Regions from separate parts of the Homo sapiens genome. Here regions 2, 3, 4, 5, 6 and 7 are each linked to region 1. Evidence: fine-mapped expression QTL. A gene starts in region 1. Each other region holds a variant in brackets. All regions are shown on one strand. Distances are from middle to middle. Region 1 holds the start of ST3GAL1 (ST3 beta-galactoside alpha-2,3-sialyltransferase 1). Region 2 overlaps LOC101927822 (a long non-coding RNA gene). Region 3 has its middle 420 kb from the start of ZFAT. Region 4 overlaps ST3GAL1 (ST3 beta-galactoside alpha-2,3-sialyltransferase 1). Region 5 overlaps ST3GAL1 (ST3 beta-galactoside alpha-2,3-sialyltransferase 1). Region 6 has its middle 440 kb from the start of ZFAT. Region 7 has its middle 11 kb from the start of LINC03024.

What was found.
Region 2: its variant is fine-mapped to the expression of ST3GAL1 in whole blood (TOPMed, PIP above 0.99).
Region 3: its variant is fine-mapped to the expression of ST3GAL1 in tibial nerve (GTEx, PIP above 0.99).
Region 4: its variant is fine-mapped to the expression of ST3GAL1 in whole blood (TOPMed, PIP above 0.99).
Region 5: its variant is fine-mapped to the expression of ST3GAL1 in whole blood (TOPMed, PIP above 0.99).
Region 6: its variant is fine-mapped to the expression of ST3GAL1 in unexposed skin (GTEx, PIP above 0.99).
Region 7: its variant is fine-mapped to the expression of ST3GAL1 in whole blood (TOPMed, PIP above 0.99).

The regions. Positions count from the first base shown.
Region 1 is chr8:133,569,823-133,573,888 of GRCh38, reverse strand. ST3GAL1 (ST3 beta-galactoside alpha-2,3-sialyltransferase 1) reads left to right here and starts at 2,002. Exons shown (of 10, transcript NM_173344.3): 1 at 2,002-2,196. ST3GAL1-DT (ST3GAL1 divergent transcript) reads right to left here and starts at 3,317. Exons shown (of 2, transcript NR_186509.1): 1 at 3,019-3,317; 2 at 33-2,831. RefSeq lists silencers at 1,253-1,312, 1,503-1,992 and enhancers at 3,783-4,002, 3,362-4,066.
Region 2 is chr8:133,897,578-133,901,643 of GRCh38, reverse strand. It overlaps LOC101927822 (a long non-coding RNA gene), which reads right to left. Exons shown (of 4, transcript NR_125424.1): 2 at 3,956-4,066; 3 at 3,428-3,606. Among named protein-coding and RNA genes, the nearest start is that of LINC03024, 220 kb to the right of the region's middle. RefSeq lists an enhancer at 3,897-4,066. The variant C/AC (reference allele first, on the strand shown) is at 2,097.
Region 3 is chr8:134,288,731-134,292,796 of GRCh38, reverse strand. No RefSeq gene overlaps it. Among named protein-coding and RNA genes, the nearest start is that of ZFAT, 420 kb to the left of the region's middle. The variant T/C (reference allele first, on the strand shown) is at 2,084.
Region 4 is chr8:133,501,903-133,505,968 of GRCh38, reverse strand. The region is part of intron 2 of ST3GAL1 (ST3 beta-galactoside alpha-2,3-sialyltransferase 1); the gene reads left to right. Among named protein-coding and RNA genes, the nearest start is that of ST3GAL1-DT, 67 kb to the left of the region's middle. RefSeq lists a silencer at 2,880-2,949 and an enhancer at 3,840-4,066. The variant G/A (reference allele first, on the strand shown) is at 2,449.
Region 5 is chr8:133,520,017-133,524,082 of GRCh38, reverse strand. All of the region lies in intron 2 of ST3GAL1 (ST3 beta-galactoside alpha-2,3-sialyltransferase 1), which reads left to right. Among named protein-coding and RNA genes, the nearest start is that of ST3GAL1-DT, 49 kb to the left of the region's middle. RefSeq lists an enhancer at 257-426. The variant C/T (reference allele first, on the strand shown) is at 2,550.
Region 6 is chr8:134,269,132-134,273,197 of GRCh38, reverse strand. No RefSeq gene overlaps it. Among named protein-coding and RNA genes, the nearest start is that of ZFAT, 440 kb to the left of the region's middle. The variant A/G (reference allele first, on the strand shown) is at 1,985.
Region 7 is chr8:133,692,683-133,696,748 of GRCh38, reverse strand. No RefSeq gene overlaps it. Among named protein-coding and RNA genes, the nearest start is that of LINC03024, 11 kb to the right of the region's middle. RefSeq lists enhancers at 1-315, 2,448-2,717. The variant G/A (reference allele first, on the strand shown) is at 2,313.

The DNA of each region.
Region 1 (4,066 bases):
TTATTTGATCCATACAATAAACAACACTTTTGTTATTTCATCCAAAAACTCTTTATTGGCCCAGACGATATTCCCAGCCAAAGCTAAAAGTCTGGTGCATGTTAGAAGCTCTTCTTTGCTGGAAGACGCTGCTGGTGGAGGGGACAGTAGCCGATGTAAGCAGAACTCTCTGCCCCCCTCCTCCCATGCACACAAGCAATCTGGAGATGCAGTGAACACCTTGACCTGAGTTTCAGAAAGAGGAAAGCCCACAGGATGTGTCCAGGCAGACAAAAGGGCTCACCCCTTCTCTAGAATTCTATCAAAAACCAAGGGCGTCAGGCAAGAGGTCTCAGAGCAGGTCCCGAAGTACCTAAAAGGCTATTCATCTTTTCCTTCCCTTTCTAGTAGTTATTTTTCTCATTCTCTCTCCTCCCCCTTTTAAAAGCTGGTTTTTCTTCTACTTTTCTCATCTCTGAATATTTCTCCTTTTCTCTCCCAAGTCCCTGAAGTCTTCCCCAACACCCTAGCCCCCATCTTCTAGCACAGGTCATCTTCCTGCTGTGGGCAGGGACCTGACACTGGAGAAACCCACCATCTACACAGCTGACTTACTACATGTCAAAGACAGTTCTAAAGGTTCTATGTGTACGAATTCACTAACTCATCACAACAGCTTTATCAGACAGACACTTCTTAGGTCGGTTCTCACAGATGAGGACACCGAGGCACAGAGTCACCTAGGCTGGGAGGTTCAGTCACTAGCCCAAGCTCACACATCCGTTGAGTGGCAGTGCAGGATTTGAACCAAGAAGTCCGGCCATGCGGGCCCTGGCCTGAATCCCTGTACTACAGCAGCCGTCTGATGAAACAAAGGCTGGGGGACTCTCCCCTTCCACTGCAAAAGGTTGATCTCTCTCCAGCTGGAGCAAGGGGCGCTGGAAGGATGCAATGACCCCAAAGGCAAACTGTGCCTCTTTCCTCTAACATTCCTCCGAAAAGTTGCGAAAGAGGTAGTCTCAGTAAGGGGTTAAGAACCGTAAAACCAGATTTACATGACTTGTGTACTGCATTTAGCATCAAAGCGCTGCACTCTGCCTTTCAGCAAAAGAAGTCTCCACCGCCCCCGCTTCCCTGTAAAAGAGGGAGGGCTGAATAACTGCAAGCCTAATCCGCAAACCCCAAGCTCCAGCCGCAGCCTCCGCATCTGGAAGGAAAAAGCGGCGGCAGGCGAGCCAGGGCAAGGGCTGGGCCAGGGCCGGGGCCGGGACCAGGGCCGGCCGCAGTGCCCGGCTCTGTGGCTCTGAACGCGGTTCTGGCCGCAAGAGTCGTCCAGCCCACGCTCCTCCCTTCCCCCTCCCTAAATCCCACCTCGAGTCCCGCGCCCTTAGAGGAAGTGGGTGGCTCTGCCCGGTCGCCAGCAGGGGATCGGCCCCTTCTCCCCACCGTGCCCCCGACTCGAGTTCTTCTGGGCACTGCCATCCTCTCGGTGCGTGCCCGTCTTCCTGCTGAAACGGACCCCAGTGGCTCCCGGGCCTCCCGGGCGCTCTTCCTTAGCCCCGCCAGCTTGAGGGCCGCGTCCAGAGAGCGGGGAGCTCCTCTCGGGGCGCCGATCAGGTCCCCGCGCCGCAGCCGCCGCCTCCGGCGTCTCCCAGGCTCGGCCTCTGCCGAGCCCGCTGCGGTCCACGTGGCTTGGCAGAGCTAAATTCGGCTTGCAGGAAGCCCGGAGCCAAGGGAAAGCCGAGCCAAGTTGGGGTGGGCGGGGCCGAACGGAGGCGCAGAGTCGGGAGGGGCGGGCACTGGGCGGAGGAAGGGGAGGGCCGCGCGCAGGGGAGGCGGTGGCTGGGCTCTGGCGCGCCCTGGCACCCGGCCCCGGCCGGCCAGGGAAGGCGGCCCCTCCTCGGTCGCCCCGCCTTTCACTCCCGTTACACCCGGGGGAAGGTGTTCCCGAGCCCTCTCCCACCCTCATCCCGCCTCCTCGCTTCCTCGGCTCCAGCCTCCGCCGGCGGAGCCCACTATGCCAGACAGTTTCGACACTTTGCAAAGACAAAGAGCCCTAGACCGGAGGGAGGAGGAGGAGGAAGAAGAGCGGAGAGAGAAGGAAGAGGCGATGTGAGCTGGGAAGGGGGCAAGTGTCCGGGACACCCACACCCCTGTATTCTCCTCCGAACCCCTTCATGCCCAAATCCCGGAAACTCCAGCGTGTCTCCAGCCGTGGTGAGTGCGCGCGCGGAGGCGAACCCTGCTCGGGGTGCGCGGGGGCTGCGTCCGCCTGAGTTGGGGCTCGGGCAGTTTCCTGTGGATTCTCGGAGTGGAAGGTTGATTGTCTGGACCCGGGAACTGAAGGGGTGGGGAGGGGACTAGGAGGGTGTGACAGTGGAGCTGGGACTGAAGACCCCGGGATTCTAGTGGAAGACATTCGAAGGGAGACCCCTTCCTTGGCAGCGGCGACCACCCAGGGCTTTGGGAGAGGAAGAAGGTCGGGGTGGAGGTTCGGGCTTAGGGGTCTTCGGCCGACACTGGAGGAGCTGCCTGGAGCTCTGTGGGGAACCTACGCCAAGTCCCGGGCAGCGGTTCCCGAAAGCAGCCCCAGTGACATTGCACCCGGCGCCGGGCTGGGATCTCCTCCGCTGGGGCCGCCCGTGGGAGGAGACCTCGCTGGGTGGCCGGGCTCAGGCGCTCTCGAGCGGATTTGGGGTCACAGGCTGGGACACCGCGGAGGCCGCCAGTGTTCTGGACGAGCGGCCGTGGGACAGTATCCGGATCGAGTCCCCCAATCCGCTGCAAGCAGGCGCAGATCCGGGAGGTGGCTATCGGCCCCGGGGACGCCGTCAGAGCGCGCTGCTCCGGATCTGGGGGTGAAGTTGACACCCGGGACAAGAGAGCTGAACGCGGCGTGGCGGACAGTGGGGGACGCGGGTGGGCCAAGGAGAGCACGGCCGGAGTCGTGTTAGTGGCAACTCGAAACTCTGAATCCGCCCCAACCCCGTGAGGCGTCGCAGCTCCCAAGAAATAATCTGACAAAAGTTAGCAACTTGCCTGTGTCTCTCGTGTGTGTGACCTGCGTGGGGGCAGGGCCACCCCTTCTGGGAGCGCACGGGGACGGACAGCGGTGACCCTGGGGCGAGGCGCTCTGGTGAGGGTACAGTTAGTTTGGAATCGGGACGGTGGCGCAACTTTCCGCTCCTCCTTTCTCTGCGCGAGTGTTTAAGCGTGACCTTGCGGGAGGAAGCGCGGCTGAACTTGAGATGGGGGTTGAGCTTGCGCCCCGGCTTGGCACAGAGACGTCGGAGCGCGCATTAGCCTGGCCTTGCAGCCGGGTCTCCCAGGAAGCGTGTGGGGATCGTCTGGCTCTGCTCGTCAGCTGGAGCCCTGACTCGCTCCTCCCTCCTACGCTAGGGTCCTCGGCGGCCGTACCATGCGCGGGGCTCGGTGGTGTGTTGGGCGAGGGGACACGTGCGCACCCAGAAGCGCGCAAGGGGGTGGGGGTTGGGCAGGTCACTGCGTCTCGCGGGCTGGGCGAGTCCCGCAGAGGGAGTCAGCCGTGACCCTGAGGGCAGTGACTGGCTCGCCGCGTCCCTGCATCAGGCATTCGCCCGGCTTTCTCGTGATTGTTTCCGGGCACCCCTGGCCTCTCCCGACTTCTCCCCCTCGCGGGTCCCCAAGCCCCGCAAGTTTGCGACGAGCTGGTTCTCCAGGGAGACAGCGAGCGCCCACCCCCGCTCTGCGGCTGGGTGTGTGTGGTGAGAGGAAGAGACGGGAGGAGGAGGCGAGGCCGACTCGCCAACGAGGAAAACGGGGTGAGAGGGGAGCCGGGTTTTCCAATAGTCGCCAGGGCGCCTGGCACGTCGTAGGTGCTAACGCAGTGTTCATTGACAAGGCCCCAAGGTGGAAGGTGCTGGCAGGGGCCCGGACGCCCCCTTCTTCCCTTCCAGTCTCTAAAATGGAGTTCAAATGTATCGACCAAGCCCTTTAGGCTTCTAGACGTGCCTGGAGCACCTACTACGTGCGGGGGCTCTACTCCTGGCCTGTTCGTAGAAGCTGCGGGCGGAGCCTCCTGATTTTCTTTACCCCGCGCTGCCCAAGC
Region 2 (4,066 bases), 330 kb before region 1:
TATTTGATAGGACAAAAACTGCACTGTGGGTAGCAGACTTTGTCCAAAGCCTGAAAAACAACTAAGGAGTAAAATGATCTTGAATTTATTAGGATCCTCCAGCAATGAAGCGGCAGGGGGTGGAAACTGACCCGTCACAGTAGAGCGGAAGGCATGAGAGATAGATATGCAGGTGCCCCAAAACACGCTTGAAGCTGGTGTATTAACTTCACACATTGTTCGCCATACACAGCCATTCTCACATCCCTGGTGCTGCTGCAACAGGGGTAAGTTTCGGTGGCCACACCATCAGGCATCTTTGATGTGTGAGATGCTGATGATGCTCACCCTGCAAGGAATTCAGAGTGCACCAGGGTGCACAAGGGTCTGGAAATACCTGGGCAGTGGAGGGGCATGCAAGATTAAGACTAGGATAAAGGAGCATTGCAACCATCCCCAGCACAGAAGAAGGCTTTGAAGATTAGGAAATATTTAAACTCAAATTTAAAAAGAGGACTCTGCCCATTGGTCATGTCAGAGAGGATATTCCATGCAAAGGGAATGAAAATTTGAGGATGGGCAGAAATGCAAGTGAGTCTGGCATGTTTCATAAATCCAAGTGGTCTAATAATGTTGAGTCTTCCACTTGCAAGGGTTGGGGAGGAAACACAATGAGGCAGCTAAGCTAGAGAATGTTAAGGGCAGTGTCCACAGAGGGCAGTGGTTTGGCATGGGCTTTCAGAGCCTAAGCAGAGTGAGGAGGGCACCTGCACAAGAGAGAGGGTGGTGATGGTGTGGGATACATATGATTGAAACATATGTGGAGGATTGATCCAATAAGTAATAGTATTAAAGAAAATGGGACCTAGATTTTGCACCGTCAGAGAAGGGAGTGACAAATATAGGAAAGAGAAAGCTAGAATCAACCCTATGGTGCTAAATTAAAATTGGAGTTATCACTGTGAAATAGAAAGAAAAAGAGAGAACTGAGTGGAGAGAGAGAGAGAGAGAGAGAGAGAGAGAAGTATTTTAAGGCAAAACTAATATTAAAATAAATATTAGTTTTACCAGATATTGACACTTCTGCCAGCTGTTTTCTGCTGAAAAATTTCTATTAATTTGTAAAAGTTTATTAGTCCTTTCTTCTGTTGTCTCCAGTTGGTTGTTAAGCCCATCAGTTAATGTTTTACATCAGATATTGTACTTTATAGTTCTAAAATTTTAATTTGGTTCCTTTTTATAATTTACATTGCTCTGTTAAGATTCCACGTCTGTTAATTTATTATCACTACATTTTCCTTTATGTACTCGAACATATTTATAAAGCTGCTTTAAAATTCTTGACCCAACATCTGAGTCATCTTAGGATCAGCTTTCATTAGCTATGTTTGCATAGATTGCATTTTCCTGCTTCTACGTTTGTCTATAAATTTTTATTGTATTCTAGACATTGTGACGCTACATTGAGAGTCTGCATTTTGTTGTTTTTTTCAGAGAATGCTAAGTTTTGTTATTGCGGACAGTTAATTTGCTGGAAGATTAGATTGATCTTTTAAGGCTTGTTGTTAAGCTTTGCTAGAGTCGTTCTAGAGTACTCTTACTCTAGGATGAGAGGAACCCTGCTTCTCAGATGTAGTCTTTCTGGATCTCAGTTGAGGTCTTCTCTCCACTCTGGATTATTGGAACACCTATATTTCTCAGCACTGTGTATCATCAATGATCTCTGCTCATCTTGTAGCTCTCCAGAAGTTGTTTTTGCCAAAGGTTGGGTAGTCTTGCCCTAAACATGTATACTTTAATTGCATCCAGTGCCTTAAGGGGACTGATACATAAATTTCTGGAGCTGCTCTTTTATGCAGCTCTGTTCTCTCTGTCATCCTGAAACTTTGTAAACTTTAAACTCTAATCTCTGCCTCCCCAGTTTAGCAAACCTGCTGTGCTCTGCTTGGATTCCCCTTTCCTAAGCCATGATTCAGGAGTAGCCACAAACATAAAGTCAGGATGATCACATGGTTCACCTCCGCCAGGCATCCCCCTTAATCCAATGCTCTGTGCTGAAATATTTCTGAATCAAAACAAACAGAAGCAACTTGCATGTCTAGTTTTGTTACTGTAAA[C/AC]ATCGAGCCCATTTCACACTTCCCTCCTGTGGGTTTAGGGAGGAGTTAGTTAGGTCAGTCACAAAACGGAAACTTTGAAACTGCTTGCAAAGTTGCCTAATGTATCACAAGGCAATGTGGTAGGTTGGCAGAGCTGGTATCTCTCTAATAGGCTGAAAGTCTCAAAATTAGAACTATAAAATTTGAGTTTAGTTTACTCTAATTCCACTGTCTATGTCCTAGGCACTGCGCTAGCTGCTAGAGGTACAAAGGTGGATGAGATGTGACCACTGCGCTAGCTGCTAGAGGTACAAAGGTGGATGGGATGTGACCAGTGCCCTGAAGGATAGGGTCCTGCAAAGAAAAATGGCAAATGCTGTGATGGAGGTCTGCAGGGCAACTAGGGTGGGAGCACAAAGTGGGGATGACCCATCTAAGCTTAAAGAGGTCAGCAAAGGTGCTAAGAATGTAGAAGAAGGTGATGAGTGAATTGAGGTGTCAAGGAAGTACAGAAGTTGTTCAGGCTGACTGAAGTGGGCAGGGGAAATAGCTGGCGAAAAGAAAAAGAGGTTCAAGCCAGGTGGCAACTTCAGTTACAGACAGCACAACCTATACTATGGCTATGGCATATACTGGCTATACTAAAGTAAATAGAGTATACAAGCTATCGCAATGGGTGCAACACAGGATTATGTCAGGAGATATAGTCAGAGAAACAAGGCTAGCCAAGATCACAACACAACTTCAGGTCCTATTTAGGCTAATAAACACAGGACTGTAGCTATTGGAGCTAGAATAGTACATAAATTAGTGGCAATTATTTATGGTGTGAGGTTCCATCTCCATTCTCCACTATCCAGATCCCGTCTGAAGTTTCTAGTCCTATATAAGACCTTTGAAACCACCAAAAGTGAAGCAGAGAAGGGAGTCAGGGTGGCAAAGGAATTCGAAAGCATTTTCTTCTGGTATGGTCATGGAGACAGGCCTTCCTATCCCCCCTTTGTAAAGGAAACAGCTCTATCCTTGTCCCTAGGCTGTTTTTTCCTAAAGAAAGTTATGGCCAACCATGAGTTCTAACTATCTGACTCAAGGCAGTTAATTCACAGGCTCATTTTGCATTGACGAGCAGGTGTCTTTAGGTTGGGCTCTCTGGGAAACAGGCCCCGAGATGAAAATATCTATGCAGAAGGTTTATCATGGTGCACTGTCAGGATCAGCAACCTAAGTGATAAAGGAAGCAGAATTGGGCAGAGGGCAAGGTTAACTTGCCATACAGTTGAAACAGAGATCTCAGCTGATTCCATGGGGAGTGCAGAAGTTGACAAGGCCCTTCAAAGACCTTTCATACTTACGCAAAGGGCCAGACTTCTGTTCGTCATCTCAATCAGTCATTAGATGCATTTTCTCCAGGGGAAAGAAAAAAAATCCCCCAGCGTGATCCAGCTGTGAGCTGTCAGCTGACAACCCTTCCTCTGGGACATGTGGGTGCTGCATCACTGCTTCCATTGCAGATAACCTGCTCTGGGAAGTTCTGCCCATGGGAGAAATGATAATTAGCCAGACTATTCAGACTCCAGAAATGAGCAGTAACATATGGCAAGGATCAGCCAGGTGATATAAACAACTTGTTTGATAGAAAGCAGGAACCAGGAGAAACAGAATGTGTGAGGAGCATGTTTATCCCCTGAGAGATGGTTGAAGAAACTGGGAATGTTTATCTGGAGGGGCAGAGAAGACTGTGGAGGGATGTGAGGCCCACCTGTAAATAGCTGAAGGGCTGGCAAGTGGAAGAAGGCTCTGGTGTGCTCCTCAGCACCTCAGGGGGTTGCATTTTAGGTGGAGAGGGTCCCAACAGTCAGGGCTCTAAGTTCTGTCCTCACCTGCAAATGGGGCTGCTGCTGACACCACACAGGTCTTTGGTGGGAGGTGGAGCTGAAGGCATTGTCAGGACCGGAGCCTCTGCAGGTATCCTGTTCCCCTAACAGCAGGCA
Region 3 (4,066 bases), 720 kb before region 1:
ACTGCTTCATTGAGGGGGCATTTAGATGTAGTGTCCTGATGCCAAGACTCCTGTCTGGGCTGAATTTCAAAGAGGATGATTCTCTTATTGTGGTCTTAAAGAGTGTCAAATTTTCTCAGCATGAGGCTTTTAGAATTTGGTACCCAAATGGCCTAAGAAATTCCCTTGTCCCATATAGGTGTTCAGTGGATCCTCTGTTGTTGGTATTGATGAAGGTCAGGCTGCTGCTCCAAGTAGCTGCTGACAGCAGTAAGGTCTACAACTCTGGGTGAAGCTGATGCAGTGACTCCCATTGTGTTTAAACTCAATGCTCCCTCCCTTCCCCTTTTTCCATATATCAAGTTGGATCTAATGTCCTGCTGAATCTACCTCCAATATCTCTTCTGTAACTTCCCCTATTCTTCCTCCCTTCCCTTTGTCGCTGCCTTAATTTAGGTCACCATCATGTCTTGCCTTGAAATAGCCTCTTAGCCAATCTCTCCTCCTTATCTTCCTCTAATCTACTCTGTGCCCTGATGACAAAACTGACTTTATAAAACATAGATCAATTTTTTATCATTCCTATGCTTAAACCCTTCAAAGTTTCTGTGCTATTTATAGATTGCTGTGTCACAAATCATTACAAATTAGTGACTTAAAACAGCTCATGTTCATCATCTCACCGTTATGTGAGGCAGGAACCTGGACACTGCTTTTCTAGAGACCCCTGTGTCAGGGTCTCTCACAAGTCTTCAGTCAAGTTGTCCAGGGCTGGGTCTCCACTAAAAAGTTGACGGGGGAGGGGCCTACTTCCAAGTTCACTCAAATTGTTGGCAACATTCGGCTTTCGGAGAGCTGTTTGAGAGATTATGTTCATTGTTGTTAAGTGGAAACTGCCCTCAGTTCTTTGCCTCATGGGGCTTTCCAACATGGTCTCTTACTTCATCACAGTCAACAAGGAAGAGCCTACTAGCAAGAGGGACATCACAGTTTTCTATTATGAAATTGATATTTCATTGCTTTTTCTGTAATCCGTCAGTTAGAGAAAGGTCATTAGGCCAACCTATATTCAAGAGAGATGATTACATAGGAGGAATTACATAGGCAACTACCAAGAGGTGGGGGTCATGGGGTCCCCCTATAGTCTATCCAACACAGGCCCTCACTGACCATGCAATAAATCCCAGACCCTCAGCTGGGGCAGGAGAACTCATTGGTTAGGAGTAGCAGAGACTGTGGCATCAGACAGAACTGAGTTAGAGTCCTGAATTGGTCATCTGTTGTGCTTAAACCCTCTAGGCCTCTGTTGGTTCATCTGAAAGATGGAAATAGTCATGGCACCTACCTCATAGGATTGTGGTAATGATATAAATGAGAATGTAAGAATTTGTGGAATACCTAATCAGGAACAAAAGCTCAATGATGTTAAGGATTATTTTAATTAGTGTTACCAACAAATTCTCAATAATCAATGTGATTGTTTCCCTTCTAGTTTTATATTTATCCTGCCTGCCTCCTCCCCTCATGCTCCCTTGGACTCCAGCCCTGATGAGTCGCAGCACATTTCCCCAGATGTGCTGGCCTTGTTGACGTGGTGGTATCTTTCCCCATGCTCTTTCCACTAATTAGACTGTCCTTCCTGTCTCCGTCCCTCTTATCCAAGAGTGAATGGAAATATCACGTCTTTTGAAGCCTTTTATGCCCTGAGGATGGATGGGTGCCCCACCCCACAACATGCCCACTGCGGTCTCACAGTGTCCTATACTTTTATCATCTGTGTGTCTGTCTTCTCTAATGATACAGATCCTGTGTCTTTCCTTTTCGGGTCCTAAATACCTATCAGAAGGTCTGGTACCTAGTAAGTGCTCAGTTTGTGTTTTAGGAAAAAATAGAATTATGGTAGAAAAATGTTATATACTTGATATTGGGGAGGTGGATAGGGCTGTTAACATAATTAAAACTGAGAGAAATTAAGCGTTTTATCCAAGGTCACATGGTTAATAAACGGCAGAAGTAGATGCAAACCCAGCTTTGCTGACTGCATATAGGATGCTGTTTTGGGAACAAGTAAGTACTGGGGCCAAAGGGGAATGACGTAGAATAC[T/C]TCTCTAAAGGTCTTTGTGGGAATAAGAAATTTTGTGAAACAAGAGAACTCTTAGAAATCTCAAGGCGTGTTGCTTAATTGTCAATGAGGTGCCTGGTTATTTGGAATAACAAGTGGATGACCTTGGGCCTGAGAACCTTCCATCTGTACTGTTCTGGGAAGTTCTAATGGAGTTCATCTGACGGGACACACGTAATTCATAAAAATAATCATCAGTGTTTCCTATGAATAGCCCTATTGTTTCACTGTTCTGCTGTTGAATGGGAATCAGTAATAAACATGGGAGGCAAGTAAAAGGAAACCAGCCAAGTAGTCTGTTGTATGGATCTCAAGCAGTAAAGCAGAAATTCATGAGATTTTTAAGAAAAAGTAACTAAAAAACTCTGTAGTCAAGTTAACGAAGCTGTGATCTCATGAATGCTTAGGTTAACAAAAGTAATTTCAGTTTTTAGAACACGGCAAAGTTTTTCCTGCTATCATTGGCTTTTAAATGTAATTTCATTGAATTTTTTCTTCGTTACTTTTTCTTATTTCATAAGTAACCTTGTGGCTAACATAAAAACAAACAAAAAATGGAAAAAACATATCTCATCATGCCAGGTAAATAAAACTGTTTGTATTTGTTAATGTTCCCCTTTTGTCTCTACGTTGGTATGCGTCCATCTTTTTGCATTCTTTTAATTCCAATATTGGCATAATTTTTTACTGAGATTTTTAAAGTTAGAATTTTGGTCTTTGAGGATGCATTTGGTGATAGATACAGCTATTCTCACACAAACATATTTAGTGATTTAATATATTATACCTAGTATCCTTAACCAGTGTTCATGGTTCTTATCTCTAGGATGGGAAATGATGGATATAGAAGCCAGTGAGAGCTCAGAATGCAAATGCAGTAAGTAACAGTGCCAAACATAGCCTTCACATTGATGCCACTTGTTGAGTTAGGAGTTAAGTATCTTACATGAATTATTTTATTTAATCCTCATAACAACTTATTAAAGTGGTACTAGCATTGTTGGTGTTCTTACAGATGAGGAAACTGAGGTTCACCAATGCTAAGTAACTTTTCCTAGGTTATTTGTTTAATAAGTGGTAAGATCAGGACTTTGAGGAGGTAGGTCTGACCCAAAGTCCCATTAATTGTCTAATAATTTGCCATAACCCAAGGCAACAAAATTCATGTTCTGTCAATTTCACTCATCCACTTAAATCATTCAATATGGAACTATTGATCACGTGCTACGTGCCAGGCAGTTCCTTTCTGCCTGGAGCTGTCATTTGTCACTTTCTTAGAGAAAGTGTTGCTTTACCTTTGTATTACACGTTACCTTTGTCACTTTCTTAGAGAAAGTGGTTGTTATACCTTTGTATAACAGGTTACTATCTCCTGCCCTCACCATAGGCGAAAGGGCTTGGAGAAGGAAAGGGGACACTTTGAAGATTGGGAAGTTGAAGGGCTATGGATTCTGACACAATATCAATTTAAAGCTATTCTCAGTTTAAAGGAAAAAACAATGAAACAAACAAATAATAGCAACAACCCAGACTGAGAAGCTGAAGACCTTCTTGTGCCCAGGGGTTGTAGATGCACATTTAATAGCTGTGTAACCTTGGACCTCAACCTCTTTGTCCTCTGGGACTTCAATTTTCTTGTCTTTAAAATGGAGATAATACTCTATTGCGGGATCTGGCCAGAGATATTGTGGGATCTGGCCGGCAGCCTGCAATGCAACGGGGCTCTCTCTTTGTTCCCAGGCAGATCGGCAGGTTGAGAAATAATAGACACACACAAGATAGTGAAAGCTGGGTCCGGCGGGGGGTCACCGCCTTCTGGTCCCGCGGTGCCAACAATGCACTGGATATACCAGCATTTATTATTAAGTTTAGTGAGGGCAGGGGTAGGTTAGTGAGGGATTTAGGGTCATTTGATTATGAGGTGAGATGGTCACATGGGGATGAAGTAATTCTTTAACATAACAT
Region 4 (4,066 bases), 68 kb after region 1:
AGTTAATTAATGAGTGCAACTGAGGACTTGTATTTTAAATTTAAAATATAAGTTTAATTAGAAATAGCAGGTGAGTGCAGTGGCTCACGCCTGTAATTCCAGCACTTTGGGAGGCCGAGGTGGGTGGATTGTGGGGTCAGGAGTTCGAGACTAGCCTGGCCAATATAGTGAAACCCTGTCTCCACTAAAAATACAAAAATTAGCCAGGCATGGTGGCACACACCTGTAATCCCAGCTACTCAGGAGACTGAGGCAGGAGACTCGCTTGAACCCAGGAGGTGGAGATTGCAGTGAGCCAAGATTGCACCACCGCACTCCACCCTGGGCGACAAGAGTGAAACTTCGTCTCAAAAAAAAAAAGAAAAGAAAAGAAAGAAAAGAAATAGCCACGTGAGGCTAGTAGATATAAAGAACTGTGACAGACCTGAGATGTCAACCTATTTGCAAGCCAACAAATTAGCTCGTTGGCAGATGCTGACAAAAGATAGCAGCTTCCTGGATCAGAGCCAAAAGACTTTACTCCAGCACGGCAGGCAGCCTTAAGTTTCATGTTTACATCATTTCTACTTGTACCCCAAGACCCACGGGCTTGCTTCATAGATGAGGAACCACAATCTTTTATTATAATGGGCTGCAAGTGAACCTACTCAACTTCTCTCTTGGAGGGAGGCATTATCTTTATGATACTGGAGAGTAAGCACACCTGAGCCCTGCTCTGGAAGGAGACACTATCTCTATGTTCCAGGCTCTGTGCCTCCTTAAAAAGGTAGTTCAGAAAAGAAGGCTGTCAGTGCTTCTGCTTGCAAGACACACAGAAGTGCAAGAGACCCATGAAGAATTGTCTGTCAACCATGGATCCTGCATTGGATACTGCAACTCCAAATTGTCTGCAGTGCCTGTTCTGGGATGTTTCACATGTACTACATCATTGACCACCCCCAGGTGTCTGCAGAGTTAGCCCGTCTTTTCTGTTTAGCAGATGAAGAAACTGAGGCTCACTCTCACCCAACTTCCTGAACTTCGAGATCGTGGATTCTCCTCCCCATTACCAACTCTTTCTACTTCCCCCTAGATCCCCCGAAAAAACAAAAATCTGGAATGTTTGTCCTCCTCACTCCTTTTCAAAACTTTACCCTCCAAGACTAGAATTCCTTTTCTCTTCTGCCTTGTCATCTTCTTCCCATTTTCCAGAAGAGTTGCCAGTCTGACCTCCTCTCCGAAGCCTTCCCTGCCCAGCCCAACCTATGCTGAATTCCCCTGTCTCTTCTCGACCATAGAAGGTCCTATCTCATACTCTTGAGTGGAAGCTCTTGAGGGCAGAGCCTGTACCTTCCTGTGGCCACTCTCCCCCAGCATGGCCTATCTCAGGACTTGGGGGAAAAACAAACTAACAAATAAGGACTCAAAAAACCAAACCAGAAACAAGCAGCTATTATTTTATGCCTGGGATTGACTTCCCACTTCACTACCCACTTTCAGTTCCAGGCCCCAGGCAGTGGGTGAATGGGCTTGATTCTTTCCCAGAAACGGGAGATGTTTTGAAATGACTCAAAGAAAAGCTGATTGGATTGGATTGAGTTTTGGTAAATCCACCCACAAGAGCAGAGAAACTTGACATTTGCCTTCCAAGCCAGCAAAAGGGATGAATCTCATTTCCTTCTAACTGAGCAGGAGGCCCAGCGATGGAATGATGACTGAGCAGGTCTCAGGAGACTGGGTTCTAGTCCAAGTTCTGAGGCTGGCTGGCTCCATGACCTTGGGGAAGGCACTGCCCTTTTCCAGGCCTTAGTTTCTCATCTATGATGCAGGACTGGAGGAGGGGGAGAGGAGTCAGACTCTCCAGATGCCCTCCCTCCCCACCTTCCATGCTGGGCTTCAGTGATCCTCCAGGCTGGGAAAGCCCAGCCTTCACAGGAACCCAGTGAAGTTCTGCTCCTCCCAGCCTCCTTTCTGCCACCTCCCTGAGCAGGACCAGCCTCCCCTCCTCTCCATGTACAGTGTAGACATCCCACACTGCCTGGCTGAGGGAGCACCTACTGTAAGGCTGTGCTGAAAGAGCAGCACTTGATTCTAATCCAGACTCCTCTATCTTCAGCCCTAATGCATCACCTCATCGTAAACATAATTCACAGTGCTGCCATCTCTGCCTTTCAAGGTGGGCAGTGCATGTTTTTTTCTCCACTCTCGTTCAGTTATTTTTAGGAAATGCCATGTAGTTCCATATACTTGACATGTACCTGCTTTCACTACATCTGGAGATATTCAGGAAAGTCCTTGTTAACGATAAGGCCTAGGGTGGAGCTGCGACGTACTTGCCATTTGTAAAAGCCAGGCAGAAGAGTCCATGCGGGTTAGACACAGATAAGGAAAAACAATTGATCAAAGAACAATTGGCCCAGCTAGGGTGGAGTTTCTTAAGGCAGCCAGGAAGTGGGGGGCTGGACGGAG[G/A]GAGGAAGGAAAGGAAGGAGGGAGGGCCTTCAAGGAGGGGTGGCGGAGATGGGGCGGAGGGGGAGCAGACAGTGGATCCTAATTGTTACAGGCACTGAATCCTTACAACAGCCCCAGAATGTAAGGATGCTTATTATCCCTGTTTTGCAGATGAGAAAACTAAAGTTCAGAGATGAAATGGCTTATCCATGGCCACTGAGCTGCAAAATGGCAGAGCCTGAGTGGAAGTCGGCTCTCCTGACTATCTACTCAGTTCTTACAAATCAAACGTTTGTTGGGGGGCGTTAGAATACTTGCAAAAGGAACTCTGTGTTTGTCAGCTTTGCTGCATAACAAAATCTTCCAAGCTCAGTGACTTGCAACAGGTGTTTATTTCTTGTTCGTTACAAGTGAAAATGCTGTGGGTAACCTGCAGGTCAGCTGTGGCTCAGCAATGCTCTGTGAATTTTCTCAGTTTAAGGTCCAGGGTGAAGGTAGTCGCTAACCAGGACATGCTGTCCTCTAACCAGAACTGAAAGAACTACTTAGTCAGATTTCAGCTTTCTGCTCAGAGATGGCACATACCAGAACTGCACACACTCTGTCAACCAAAGCAAGTGACATGGCCAAGCCCAATGTCAGTGGAGCAGGGAGGTATACTGTCTGTCCTCCCACAGTGAGAGGTGGAGGCTGCTAGAAGGGGAATAAATAGTTGCATAATGCAGTTGGCCACACTGGGCTCTGCAGACAGATGCCTGGGTCTGACTCCTATCTCTGTCACTTAATAGTTGTAGTCATATGGCCTTCAGCAAAGTGCTTGACCACACTGTGCCTCAGCTTCCTCAACTGCAAAATGGGGATGATAATTATAGTCCTGCATTAATTTGCTAGAACTACCATAACAAAATATCACAAACTCGGTAGCTTAAACGACAGAAATTTATTTTCTCACAGATCTGGAAGCTGGAAGCCCAAGATCAAGGTGTCATCAGGGTTGGTTTCTGATGAGGGCTCTCTTTCTGGCTTGCAAATGGCAGCCTTCTAATTTGTCCTCACATGGCTTTCTTATGTGCATATGGTGAGAGTGCTTTCTGGCACCTCTTTTTTTTTTTTTTATAAGGACATCAATTCTAGCAGATTAGGGCCCCACCATTATGACCTCATTTAACCTTATTACCTTCCTAAAGGCCTTATCTCCAAATACAGTCATCTTGAGGGTTAAGGCATCAACATATGAATTTGGTGGGGGTGTGGGGGACGGTTCATTCCATAGCAAGGGCCAATTCTGCAGGGCTCTTGTGATGATTTAAATGGGTTAGGACAGCGTCTGGCCTACAGGCAAGCACTGAATAAGAGCTAAGCTGCTCTTAGTACCCCAGGGATAGCAGGCCTCACATTATCATATTGGCTATTCCCTGCACTGATAATGCCTCATTTGCTTTCTTTGTCCTTTGGCAACCTCTCCCAATTCCTGGCATAAATGAGGTGACCAGGAAATGGATGCTTGAGTCCCCCGGTGAATCCTGAGGCAGTTGACAGAAGGCACGCAGGGTTTGAGGTGCCCTGGGCTGCACTCCCTGCTGTGTTGCTGACCTGCTTGGAGACTTTGGCCAAGCCACCATCTTCTGCCAGCCAGGAT
Region 5 (4,066 bases), 50 kb after region 1:
CAAAACCATGAAATGGCATAAGAGCATTCATTCAGATTTCATAGGTCTGTGGGTCACATGTGGTGGTTCTGGCTTAGTCTTTGAGTTGAGTTGGCCCTGACTGGAGGGTCACAGGCTGCCTGAAGCATGTTTTTCTCATAATGGAGGTCAGAAGCTCCCCGAAGGACACAAAGCTCTTATGATTATGGTTCTGAACTGGCATCTTGACACTTCTTCCCACATTCCATTGGCTAAAGCGTGTCACAACATCCAGTGGGTGAAAAAATACACTCCCACTTCGAGAGACGAGGACGAGGGATAGAGACCCTTGTGGCTCCCATACCCAGCCTTCTGCCAGTCCGTTTGTACTTGTTCTCCAGCAAGAAGCTCAACAGACATTTGTCAATTGGTCATAAATCTGGTACCTAGGAATGGTGCTGACCTCTTGCAGGCCTCCAGGGAGGTCCTGAGAGTCCCATGAGAGTCGACTTTGCTTTGTCACAGAGCAGGACAAGTGGCCATTCCATCTGCAATAAGACCCTTCTAAATGCTCTGCAGGAACTCCTGATGCATCCTTCCAGTGCCCCTTTGAAGTAGCTGCCACTTTAAGCATCACCATCTTCACTTTACAGAGGAGGAAATGAAGGCACAGGGAGGTTGAGTTACTTGCCTGAGGGTGCCCAGCAAAGTGGGCAGAGCCAGATTGAGGCTCAGGTGGTTTGGCTGTGGAATCTCTGTACTGCTTCTAAGGGTGGAGAAAGCAACAGCTGCACACCTTTGTGACTTGTGCTAGGACAGAGGTGTGCATGGGGGTGTGGCAGTGTCTGTGAATTGAGACCTGGACCCTCCAGTCTCCCATGTTCTCTGTGGTGTTTGGGAGATTAGCAACCCCCCACAGAAGAGTTAGGACCCACTTCCCCTGCTCCCAGAAGCCACGCAACTCCCCTCTCAGCAGGGCAGAAGGGAGAGGCCCCTTGCTGCTCGCCAGGGCCCTGGGCCAGGTGGGAGTGACAGAGCGCAGCCCCATCTGTTTGAAATTAGAAGTGAATTGAGCACAGTTGTCCAGAAACTCCATGAAGTTTAGAAACACCGTGCTGAATGTCTCCCCCAGCAAGGCTGTCTCTTCTTGAGAGATTTCATCCCTGTCTCTTCCCCACAGTGCTCATTTTCTTAGCACCTTCTCTGCCCTAGGCTCTAGGGACAGAGACAGTGAGATGAGCCCCTTCCCTCGCCTGGTGAGGGTGTTGGGAGCACACCAGGAGGCCAGAGAAGGATTGTACTCCAGGGAGGATAGTGGTGGCAAAATAACGACAGTAATTAGTGTGTCCATTTAGTGTGTGCTTGTGGAGTGTCACGTGCTTAACACTGTGCCCCTTAGGCCAGTGTTATGTTTGTCTTCAGTTTTTGGATGAAACCCAGGCTCTCAGGGGTTAACTAGCAAGACCCTGCGGCCACCAGGTGACTCTGCTGGATATGAACGTAGGCTTTTCTGTGCCAGCGCCTCAGCACCCTGGACCAGCTGGGGTACAGGGTAAAGTACTCTGAGAGTCAGATCAGAAGGCTTAAGGTCCCACTTACTGCTCTGCCCCACACAGGCTGTGTGGCCTCAGGCAAGTCAGTTGACCTCTCTGAGCCTCAGACCCTCAGCTATGACTTGGAATTGCAACACATTTCCAGAGGGGTAGAGATCAAACCACACTGTGCCTGTGATGGGGCTTTGAATTAAAGCAGGGAACCTTCTGTGCCTGGAGAGCCTCAGCATCTAGGGGCAGTGTCCTGAGCCACCATTCCAGGGAAGCCATTTGCAATTTTTTTTAGATTTTTAAAAAATGTTGCTGGGTCTGCGTTTTTCCACATCCTCTGAACTTTCCTTCCTGCTAGCTTTCTATATTGCTTCCTACTTTTTCTCTGCTTTGGGTATAAGCTTCTAGGAATAGAATTTTAAATCTTAGATGGCTTCCCCATTCTATATAGCTCTTGGGAGTGCTCACGTCAAAGACTTCTGGGAGGCTTTCTGCCCAGAGTTGGGCTGCTGGAGAAGATTATAAAGGCACCACCATTTTTAAGGTTTTTGTTTTGTTTTGTTTGGAAGTTTGGAAGTTTCATTCAGAAAAGTAACCCATGACCACTGAAACAAATCCTGAAAACAGAGAAAAGTATAAAAGCTCAAAACAGAAACAGAAAATCCTACAGAAACCACTCTCCCAGAAAGTACCTATCTTAGTAGTTCATACTGTTTTCTTTCACGGCATTTTGGTTCCTCTAGGTTAACATATACTAAAATTGGAATTATAATTCTGAAATGCTTTTCTCTTTTCGTTTCCAATTTAACAGTGTAGTAGATATTCCTCCGTGTTATTTAAAATTCTTCATGATCATTATTAATGATTGAAAACTTCTGTCCTGTAACAGATATTTTAACATATCATGGTTTAATTAATAATTTCCTTAATGTGGAGCATGCAGGAGGAGCTCTCTACATTTTGCTATTAAAAATAACATGATAGGCCTGGGGGCGGTGTTTCACGCCTGTAATTCCAGCACTTTGGGAGGCCGAGGTGGGTGGATCA[C/T]GAGGTCAGGAGTTTGAGACGAGCCTGGCCAAGATAATGAAACCCCGTCTCTAATAAAAATACAAAAATTAGCTGGGCACGGTGGCAGGCGCCTGTAATCCCAGCTACTCAGGAGGCTGAGGCAGGAGAATTGCTTGAACCCAAGAGATGGAGGTTACAGTGAGCGGAGATCACGCCACTGCACTCTAGCCTGGGCAATAGAGCAAGATTCCGTCTCAAAAAACCCCCAAAAATTAGCTGGGTGTGGTGGCACACACCTGTAATCCCAGCTACTTGGGAGGCTGAGGCAGGAAAATTGCTTGAACCCAGGAAGCGGAGGTTGCAGTGAGCCAAGATTGCACCACTGCACTCTAGCCTGGGCAACAGAGCAAGACTGTCTCAAAAAAAAAAAAAAACAACCCACAAAAACAAAAATTAGCTGGGTGTGGTGGTGCACACCTGTAATCCCAGCTACTTGGGAGGCTGAGGCAGGAAAATTGCTTGAACCCAGGAAGCGGAGGTTGCAGTGAGCCAAGATTGCACCACTGCACTCTAGCCTGGGCAACAGAGCAAGACTGTCTCAAAAAAAAAAAAAAACAACCCACAAAAACAAAAATTAGCTGGGTGTGGTGGTGCACACCTGTAATCCCAGCTACTCAGGAGGCTGAGGCACAAGAATTGCCTGAACCTGGGAGGCAGAGGTTGCAGTGAGCTGGAATCGCACCATAGCACTTTAGCCTGGACGACAAAGTGAGACTCTGTCAAAAAAAAAAAAAAAAAACCCACAAAAAATAACATGATAAACATCTTTGGGCACAAAACTGCACATTGAGCCATTTCCTGGAATAGACTCCGAAAAGGGGAATTACGTATGCAGTAGAAGGAAAGAGCACTTTTTGAGGCTTTTGATACCTCAAGCAAATGTCCTTTTGTTCTAGACTGGAGGCTATGGTGGGGTGGGCTGCCAGAGACCCTGCTTCCCTGCAGGGGATTCATGTTTCTGCTGAACAGGGGTCCAAACCCATGAGCTCCTGGCTCAGGAAAGGTCCTAGGTGGGCCCATACCCAACAGCTTTTCACAGTGACTTGTGAGAAGCTCTAGGAGTCCTGATGATCTAAATTGTTTCAGTTGAAAGTGGAACAACTAGGAGCATTTTGAAGGCAGAAGTGTCAAGACGCAGAAACTTCTGTGGTGCCAGAAGAGGGGGCTGCCTCCAGCAAGATGGAATTCACCACGGAATATATACCAAGCAGCGTGTGGGCAGGTGTTGTGCACACCACACCCCGCTGCGAGTTGTCCCCGGCTCCAGCCTCTCTATGTTCCTCCCTATCAGCTGACCTCTACACACTCATTTCTTTGCATAGTCTCTGCCTCCCCTAGAATTTCAGCTCCCTTCATCTGTTTTGTTCCCTGCTGTAGACTTAGCCCCCACAAACGTTACCTGGCCCATTGCAGCTGCTCAGTAAATATGCGTGGGCTGAAAGAATGATGAGTGGGGAAGATTGTAAAGACCTGCACAGAGGTCCCAAAATATGATG
Region 6 (4,066 bases), 700 kb before region 1:
TATATAGTTCTGTGCTAAGAGGCTTTGTAGTATTTGTTGTTGACTCCCCAGAAAACTTTCTGATCAAGGAAGGTTAAGCTTATTAAGATGATTTTTTATTTTATTTTATTTTGTTTTATTATTATTATACTTTAAGTTTTAGAGTACATGTGCACAATGTGCAGGTTAGTTGCCTATGTATACATGTGCCATGCTGGTGTGCTGCACCCATTAACTCGTCATTTAGCATTAGGTGTATCTCCCCTCTCCCCCCACCCCACAACAGTCCCCAGAGTGTGATGTTCCCCTTCCTGTGTCCATGTGTTCTCATTGTTCAATCCCCACCTATGAGTGAGAATATGCGGTGTTTGGTTTTTTGTTCTTGCGACGTCACCTCAACAGTCTCATAGTATCTTCAAAATAAGAAATGAAGAGAGTGGATTAGTAGTATTTCAAAGTAGGTGACTTCTACTGTGGTTTCAGTCTTCACTATCTCTTGAGTGGTAGGGAACTGGTTGCAAGGTGGGGAACTAGTTAAGATTGAGCAGAGTTTATAATGTGAACACTTGATTTCTGTGCATGGCAAAGCAGGTGAGGGTGTTGATGTGCGTATTGATGCTGTTAGCCCTGATACGTAAGCTGATCAATTAAGACATAGCCTTATTTTTTAAGAGAAGATATTTTTTGGAAATGAAGACAAATTATTTTTGTTTGATCTCAATATTGCCTGGCACAAAACAGGAAAATATGCTTTGTCCCAGAATTATTTAGCACAGAAACAGAAAAATATGTCGGTTCAATCCCCAGTAGGTTACGACAGACAGGGGCAGTACCTTACAACATGCTGCAGTGAAGCCCATTGTACTTGATATTCATTCTTTTATTCATTCATCTACTTCACCTTCTTTATTTTATACACTTATTTTCCTTCATTAAGCAAATGTTTATTGAGAATTATAGATTAAAATAATTGTGTCCTGAGATTCTAGGCAAGGAGCTGATCATTAAGAAGTAAGAGAATGAGAAATGGGGTCCTACCATAATGACAGAAAGGAGTGAGCAGACTGCAAATGAATGACTGCAATGCTGCAAAAGACATTCTTATTTTTCAAAGTGACGTCCATGGACCACCTGCAGGAATATCACCTAGGCTGCATTTTTAGCATTTAGATTCCTGAGTGCCAGTCCACATGTGCTGAGTCAGAATTTCTGGGGATGGGGCTCAGGAATATACATGTGCATAGTCTTTCCCAGTATCCTCATGCTCACTTACCTTTGAGAACTACTGGTCAACACGATGAGAAATTCTCTGCCTGTCGAGATCATAATAAATTCAAACATATCCCCAGTGAGATGCAAACAATTACCACAGGAGTTAACAAGTATTACTAAATAGGAGAAGTGTAAGGATGAAAGGGCATTTCAGAGCTCAGAGTGCATCTTGGTTTGCCATGTCCTTGGAATATCAGAATATTAGAGGTTTATTTTCTTCCTCTTGTTCACATTGAGATGAGACTTTGTTTTATAATTATTTCCATAGACCATATAATTCTCACAGAAATCCACCATGGGACAGGATGTCCTGACACTCCCGGATGCCTAATCAAATGTGCATGGGAAATGTGACATTTCTCACTGAGGTTAAAATTAACTGGAACAGCCTGTAAGATCTCTTTTTAATCTAACTTCAAGAAAATCTTTTTTACATGGAATAATTTAAAATTTTTAAATGTGCATGTTTTAAGCTTCTGTTGAGCATTTCATTTTCTTCTCCAAATTACATAATTCTAGAGCCCTTTTCAAGTTATTATCGACTGGGCCATTGTCTAAAGACTGAGCTTGAAATGCAGCTAAACTACTGCACGGCAGAACACCGAAAGTCCCAGACTAGAAACATGTAGCTCTGAATTCTGGTCTCACTGTCTCACTAACCAGCAGGGGGGTCTTGGGTAAGTTTCTTTACATATCAAACTTACTTTTTCCTCACTTTTCTTTAGCAAAGATC[A/G]TGACTCCTCCCTCAGGATTGTGGTAGGTTGTTTTCTTTTCCCCCCCTTTGAGACGGAGTTTTGCTCTTGTTGCCAAGGCTGGAATGCAATGGCACAATCTCGGCTCACTTCAGTCTCCGCCTCCCAGGTTCAAGTGATTCTCCTGCCTCAGCCTCCCAAGTAACTGGGATTACAGGCACCCACCACCACACCCGGCTAATTTTTTGTATTTTTAGTAGAAATGGGGTTTCAACATGTTGGCCAGGCTGGTCTCGAACTCCTGGCCTCAGGTGATCTGCCTACCTCAGCCTCCCAAAGTGCTGAGATTACAGGCCTGAGCCACTGTGCCCGGCCAGGATTATGGTAGTCCTTAAATGAGATAATGTGTGTGATGTTTCTGGTTTTGTATTTGACACTAAATACATGATTAATAAATATTGATGCTCTTGCAAGATAGGTGCCTTTCTTTATGTATCCACATAATTTTGAGTTGGGAGTTCATGGCCATAGAAAACTTACTGATTAAAATTCTTTGCTGTTTTGATGGGTTTGGCAGTTTTGATGGTCACTAGATGGGTGAGTGGTCTGGTGCAATATTTCTCAAAACAAGATGACCTAGGGATCTTACTGAAATGCACAGCCCTAAGCTAGGGCCTGAGCTTCTGTAGTTCTGAAAAGGCCCCAGGTGCTGCCAGGGCTGCTAATCATGGAGCACACTTTGGGGACCTAAGGTCAAAGGAAGAGCCTGGCTAAGCCTGTGACAGATAATGGGAAGATGCTCAGCCACCCCATTCTGCTCTGGATAGTCAGGGGCACTAGGATCTTTTGCCATACGGACCATGTGGCTGCTATCTGCTCAATGGGATACAGGAGACAGTGGTGGATGCCTGACTGTCATAAGATGTCCTATGATTCTCCTCCTTCTGTCTCTTGGCTTATCAGCAGGCTGTATATAAATCAAACAATGGAGGATTCTCAGGAGAGTGTAGAGGATGGGAGAGCCACAGATAGAAGGAGCTGTGATCCCGGAACCACTATTTAGAAAACCACTTGCTACTTGGAATGCCTAGTTAGACAATGACCCAAATAAGAAATAAACCTTGCTTGTGTTAATCCACTGAGATTTTGGTTGTTACAACAGCTGGCATAAATTGACTAATACCATAACGGTGCTAAGCTATTCCTTTAGTCCTTGGGGTGGGATACCTGGGAACTTCAGCGTGTATCTTGTCCAGTTTCAGGGAGTCCCATCTATTAATTCCATTGTGCCAGACAAATGTTAACATTTTTTGTGTGTGCCATAACTTGACAAAGTTGAGAAGCATTCTAAATGAAAAGAGTCCAGACTCAAGTGTTAGGAAAATCTGGCATTCCATTTTGAGCACTGTTGCTGTTTCATACATCACCTCTCTCAATTTCCATTGCCTCCATTTTCTCAAGTGTCCTGCTACACTTGGTGTGAATATTTCATAAGCCAAATGCTGGAAAACTTCAGTAGCTTGGTAGTGTTAAGGGAGAGTAGATTGGGGATGATTTTTTTGGTGGAGCAGAAGAACTTCAGCCATAGGCAGAGCATAGTGGATGGCAGCGGCCAAAGAACAACCAAAAGACTCATTGCTGGTTTCACAAATGAGGGCTGGAACTCATTCTGATAAATCAACTGGGTGTCATGGAATATTTATGCGTGCCTGCTCCTTGCCATCACTTCATTCAGCTAATGCGCCTCCACTTACAACCCAGCTCCCTGGGCCTGCACACACTTCTGTCTCTGTCTTCTTACCATGACAAGCAAGGTTGTGGGCTACATTTGGTATGAAATTTTTCAATTCTCCTTGAATGTTCTGGGATAATGGATTTTCTTCTTGACCATCAGATACCCCAGCATTTAGCTGAGTTTTCGATGCTGTCCTTGAGGGTAGAATCATTCTGGGACTGTGTTTCAAAGGCAGAAGCATATTTCACAGAAATCATAACATCATAGACTCACAGCACGGGAAGCTTCAGGCCTCTGTGTTTGACCTCTTCATTTTTACAGATGAGACGCCAGGAGGGAAAGACTCCTTCCCAAATTAGTTTTATAATTGGGACTAGGCCATCTCTCG
Region 7 (4,066 bases), 120 kb before region 1:
AGGCTCAGGAGGTTAATGAGTCTCCTGAAGTCGCCTAGTAGGCTGGGAGCAGAGACAGGGCTTAGCCCCTTGCTTTCTAAATCGGTATTCCTTCCATTACTCCGCATCCTTTCCTGGAGTCATTATGTAAAATTCTGCTTCACAATCTGATGCTCTGAGCTTCCCAGGGCCAGGCCACTTCCATAAATGCCTTGCTAGTAGTTGTTTCTAAGGAACTGTCTTGATCTGCCCCTCTGTGAGACCTCAGTAGGGCTGGAGATGCACATGTGTGTACATCAATGCACTTGTGCACACACAAATGCACTCATGTGTGCACACAGGGGCATGCAAAGCATGTAAACTCACATATGCGTGCACACACACTTCAATATCTGTGCATTCCCTCCACTTCTGTATCTCTGGTAAAGCAAATTCTCCAGCCTTCTCCCGCAAGTGGGTGATTCATTACACCCCCCAGCAGTCATCAAGGGAGGTGCGGCCACACTTCGAAGAAATCACCTAAAGACGGGTAACCTGGCATGTGTGATTTCTTCTTAGCAGATAACATCTTCCAGGGGCCTGAGGCACTCAGATGAGATGTCACCTTCTCCAAAGAAAAAACGCATTTTGCACACGTTTCGGATTTTAGTTTACCAGCACTGGCCAATGAATGACTTTGGATTCTAATAACACTCTCATCTTCATACACTCTGAGGGCAGCCAGTCAAAGCAAGCCTGGTGCCTTGCAGGGCCTGGAAACAGACCAGACAAGATTTAAATGACCTCTCAGAATATCAGAAAAGGCCCTGCTAGACCTCACCCCCACTTTCCAGTGCATTGTGAATCTTTACACTTACCCTTTAAGTTATGTTTCAAAGAAAGCACACACATGCTTAGGGTCAATTTCACAGTCTTGCCAATGCTCTTAATGAGGTGAGTGGATAATGAAGGCAGTTCATGCAGTCAATGCCCCCTCGACTTCAAAGCCAAGAACTAGACCTAGCTGCTCCATCTACCAGCTGCGTCTCCTTGGCTTTATCGCTTAACCCCCAAACCACATCCACAAAATGGAAATCACAATCCAGTTTTCACATTTGGCCTGAAGACAAAGTGACACTTTATATAAATGTGGCTTTCAAACTCTAACTCCAATGTCCCTTTCAGGAACTATTGTGATGAGGCGCAGGTAGGCTAGAGCATGAGCTGCTCAAATACCCCACAGGCAGAAGCAACAGGTATGTCCTGGGACTCCAGCTTTGTGTCTGGGGCTGCACCTTCCCTCCAGGTCCACAACTGAGAGCCAGTGAATCCTTGGAATCTGGTTCTGCCACAAGTTTGCTGAGTGACTCTAGGCGAGTGACCCACCGTTGACCTCAGTTTCTTCATCTTCTGTAAAATGCTATCTGTCCTACCTACCTGTCCTTCCAAGTTCTGTGGTTGGAATTAAAGACTCCAGCCTGGAAAAGTGTCAGCCTACTGGATAAGGTCTCTCATGGCTCACACTTGCCTCCATCCCAGCTGCCACTGCACTGGTTTGGGGCCTCTGCCTGGGCTTCGTGTCCGGACTACCCCCCTCAGCCTCCCACCCTCACCCCATCATCCCTCAGGAATGGTGAAGCAGTCCATCAGAGGTCTAAATTCTCGCGCGTCATTTCCGAACTCAGAAAACACTACAGGCCCTCAAAAATGTGAAGGAAAACCTCATCAGCATCAGAACCACATCGTATAGTGGGGAAAAGTGCAGAATCTTGAGGCTGCCTGGGTTCAAATCCCATTTTCATCACTTACCAGCTGTGTGACTTTGGGCAAGTTCATTATCATCTCTGTACCTTACTTTCTTTACCTATAAAGTGAAGATGATGCTGATGAAGGCAAGAGTACCTACTTAATGGGAGATTTTGTGCAGATTATATGAAGTGCTGATCAGTGGCCCATTGCGAATCCTCAGTAAGTAGTATTCTCATCGTGACAGAATCTTTCATGTCACGCTTTCTAGTGGCAAAGACAACACTGCATCCAAGATCAAATAAACAAACGACATTTATCCATAAAATTGCAGCAAGGGAGGTAGCCTGCTGTCGCCTTCATTTCAGCAGGGCTTCAAAGGTGTTAGAAAGGAGAGTCAGTTTTATAGAATAAAAACAGGAAATGCTGAGACAATCTTGGATTGACAAGTATACTATTAAGGCGGGATTTTTAGCTGCGAGGAAACATCCTAATAGGTCCTCAGGTAGATTCAGCTGCCCTTAGCTGCAAAGGCAGGCAAGCAGCTCCTCAGTTTCAAAAGAGGAAGGATTGTTCAATATTAGGGCTAAGGGTTTCTGTGGCTAACC[G/A]TTTCCTGAAACAGGTCGGGGGTAGATGGGGTGCTTTTTTTGTGGTCAAACTGTCATAATGCATAATCACTGGTGTGGGGGTCACCAAGACAGGCACTTTTCACCCTCCCCCAGGCCCTCTGTCCCAAAAGAGTATCTGCAATGTGGCCACAGGGCCCCCAGTAGCTGCCCTCCACTCTCCAGCTCTCCCTGTCACCTGTATCTCCCCACCACTGCCCATTCTGCTCTTCCACCTACCTGGATTCCCAGGCTTCCCTGAAACCCCATGAGCCATCCCACACTGAGGGCTTCCACAGCACCAGCCCCACTCCACCCTGACCCAGTTATCCCTTGGGGATGCCTTTCCTGACATTCTGCCCCAGGGAGACCTCCTCTAAGGATGCCTCTGCCCTTGGTCTGGGATTGGCCAATCTATACTCCTAGCACTGGTTCTGCTTCTCACCTTGCCCCCATGATACCATGTGTGTGCATCTTTACCTATCACGTCTTATCTTCTGCACTTCAGCTTCTGGGGGAAAGACCTTCTCACACCTCTGCAAGGTTCAGTGTCTAGCATGGTATATTTTTAAGAGATGTTGACGGAATATAGGAATGTGTTCATGCATGAATGACTGATGTGGTTTCCATGGTGGGTCTCAAAGGTGAGTAGAACTTTACCAAGGAGAGGTGGACAGTAGAAAATAAGCCCCAGTGCATAGGGATTTAGTCTGCTTTGCTCACCTCCTATTCCAGGGCCTAGAATGGCTTCAGCATATTTGACTCTCGACAAGTATGTATTGGATTGGACAAATGACAGGAAGCCACTCTTCTCCTCCTTTCTCAGATACTAAGTAAATGAAGAGGCTTAGCCCACAGAGAGATTTCAGCAGTGATGCTTGTCACAGGGTAGTGTTTCTTCTCTGCATCCGTGAAAGCCTCCCAATCACCAAAGCTTGGAGCCCCAGGCAACTCTAAGAACATGCCAAGACTTCATCCAGACTAGAACCTGTGTTCTCAAAGCATCAACCATGTTTATAACATTCCCAGATTCTTTCTGAAATTCCCAAGGAAATGGCCCTTGGATTCCCTTCAACCTGATGCGCCTCCCACTTTATCTGAGTTTCATGAATTCGGGCTGAGTCCTCTCACTTCCCAAGGCATGAGTCCTGGGAGCCCTGGGTACTAGGGAGCATGTGTGTCTGTGTGAGAGAGATGGGGTTGGTATGGAGAGAGAACAAAATGAGTCACTACTGAGGAATGAAACACTGTGGTTATTAGTGTAAAATATTCAAATCTCACACTCTTAATTTGTCACAAACCTTTCTCCTTGAGGTCTGACATTTTGAAATATACATATTTTTTCCATTTGTTAAATTGGCCCTTTGGCATAGTAGCCTTTAAGTTTTACTTCAATGGTATCACCCCAAAATCTGCTTCTACAACTGTGGCCACTTCCCCTCTTACATCTTCCCAGTATGCTCACCTAATGTCCATTTAAGTATTCACATTTGTCAGACCACGGCCTTTTGATGTTTTGCTTTTGGTTCAGAAATGTGATTCCTGTCACTGCAACCAGTTTCTCAGTCTTGCCAACTGGCCACCTTACCAAGTAAATTGTCCTCTCGTCATTCCTTTAGAACCACTTCTGCTAGATTTCATCGTATTTTGTAAAATTACCTTTTATAGTCATGTGATATGCAAACTACGCATGGTTCTGGGTAATCCAACTGCTTTGTAATGATGATAATGAAGATGAAGATAGTAATGATGTGTGT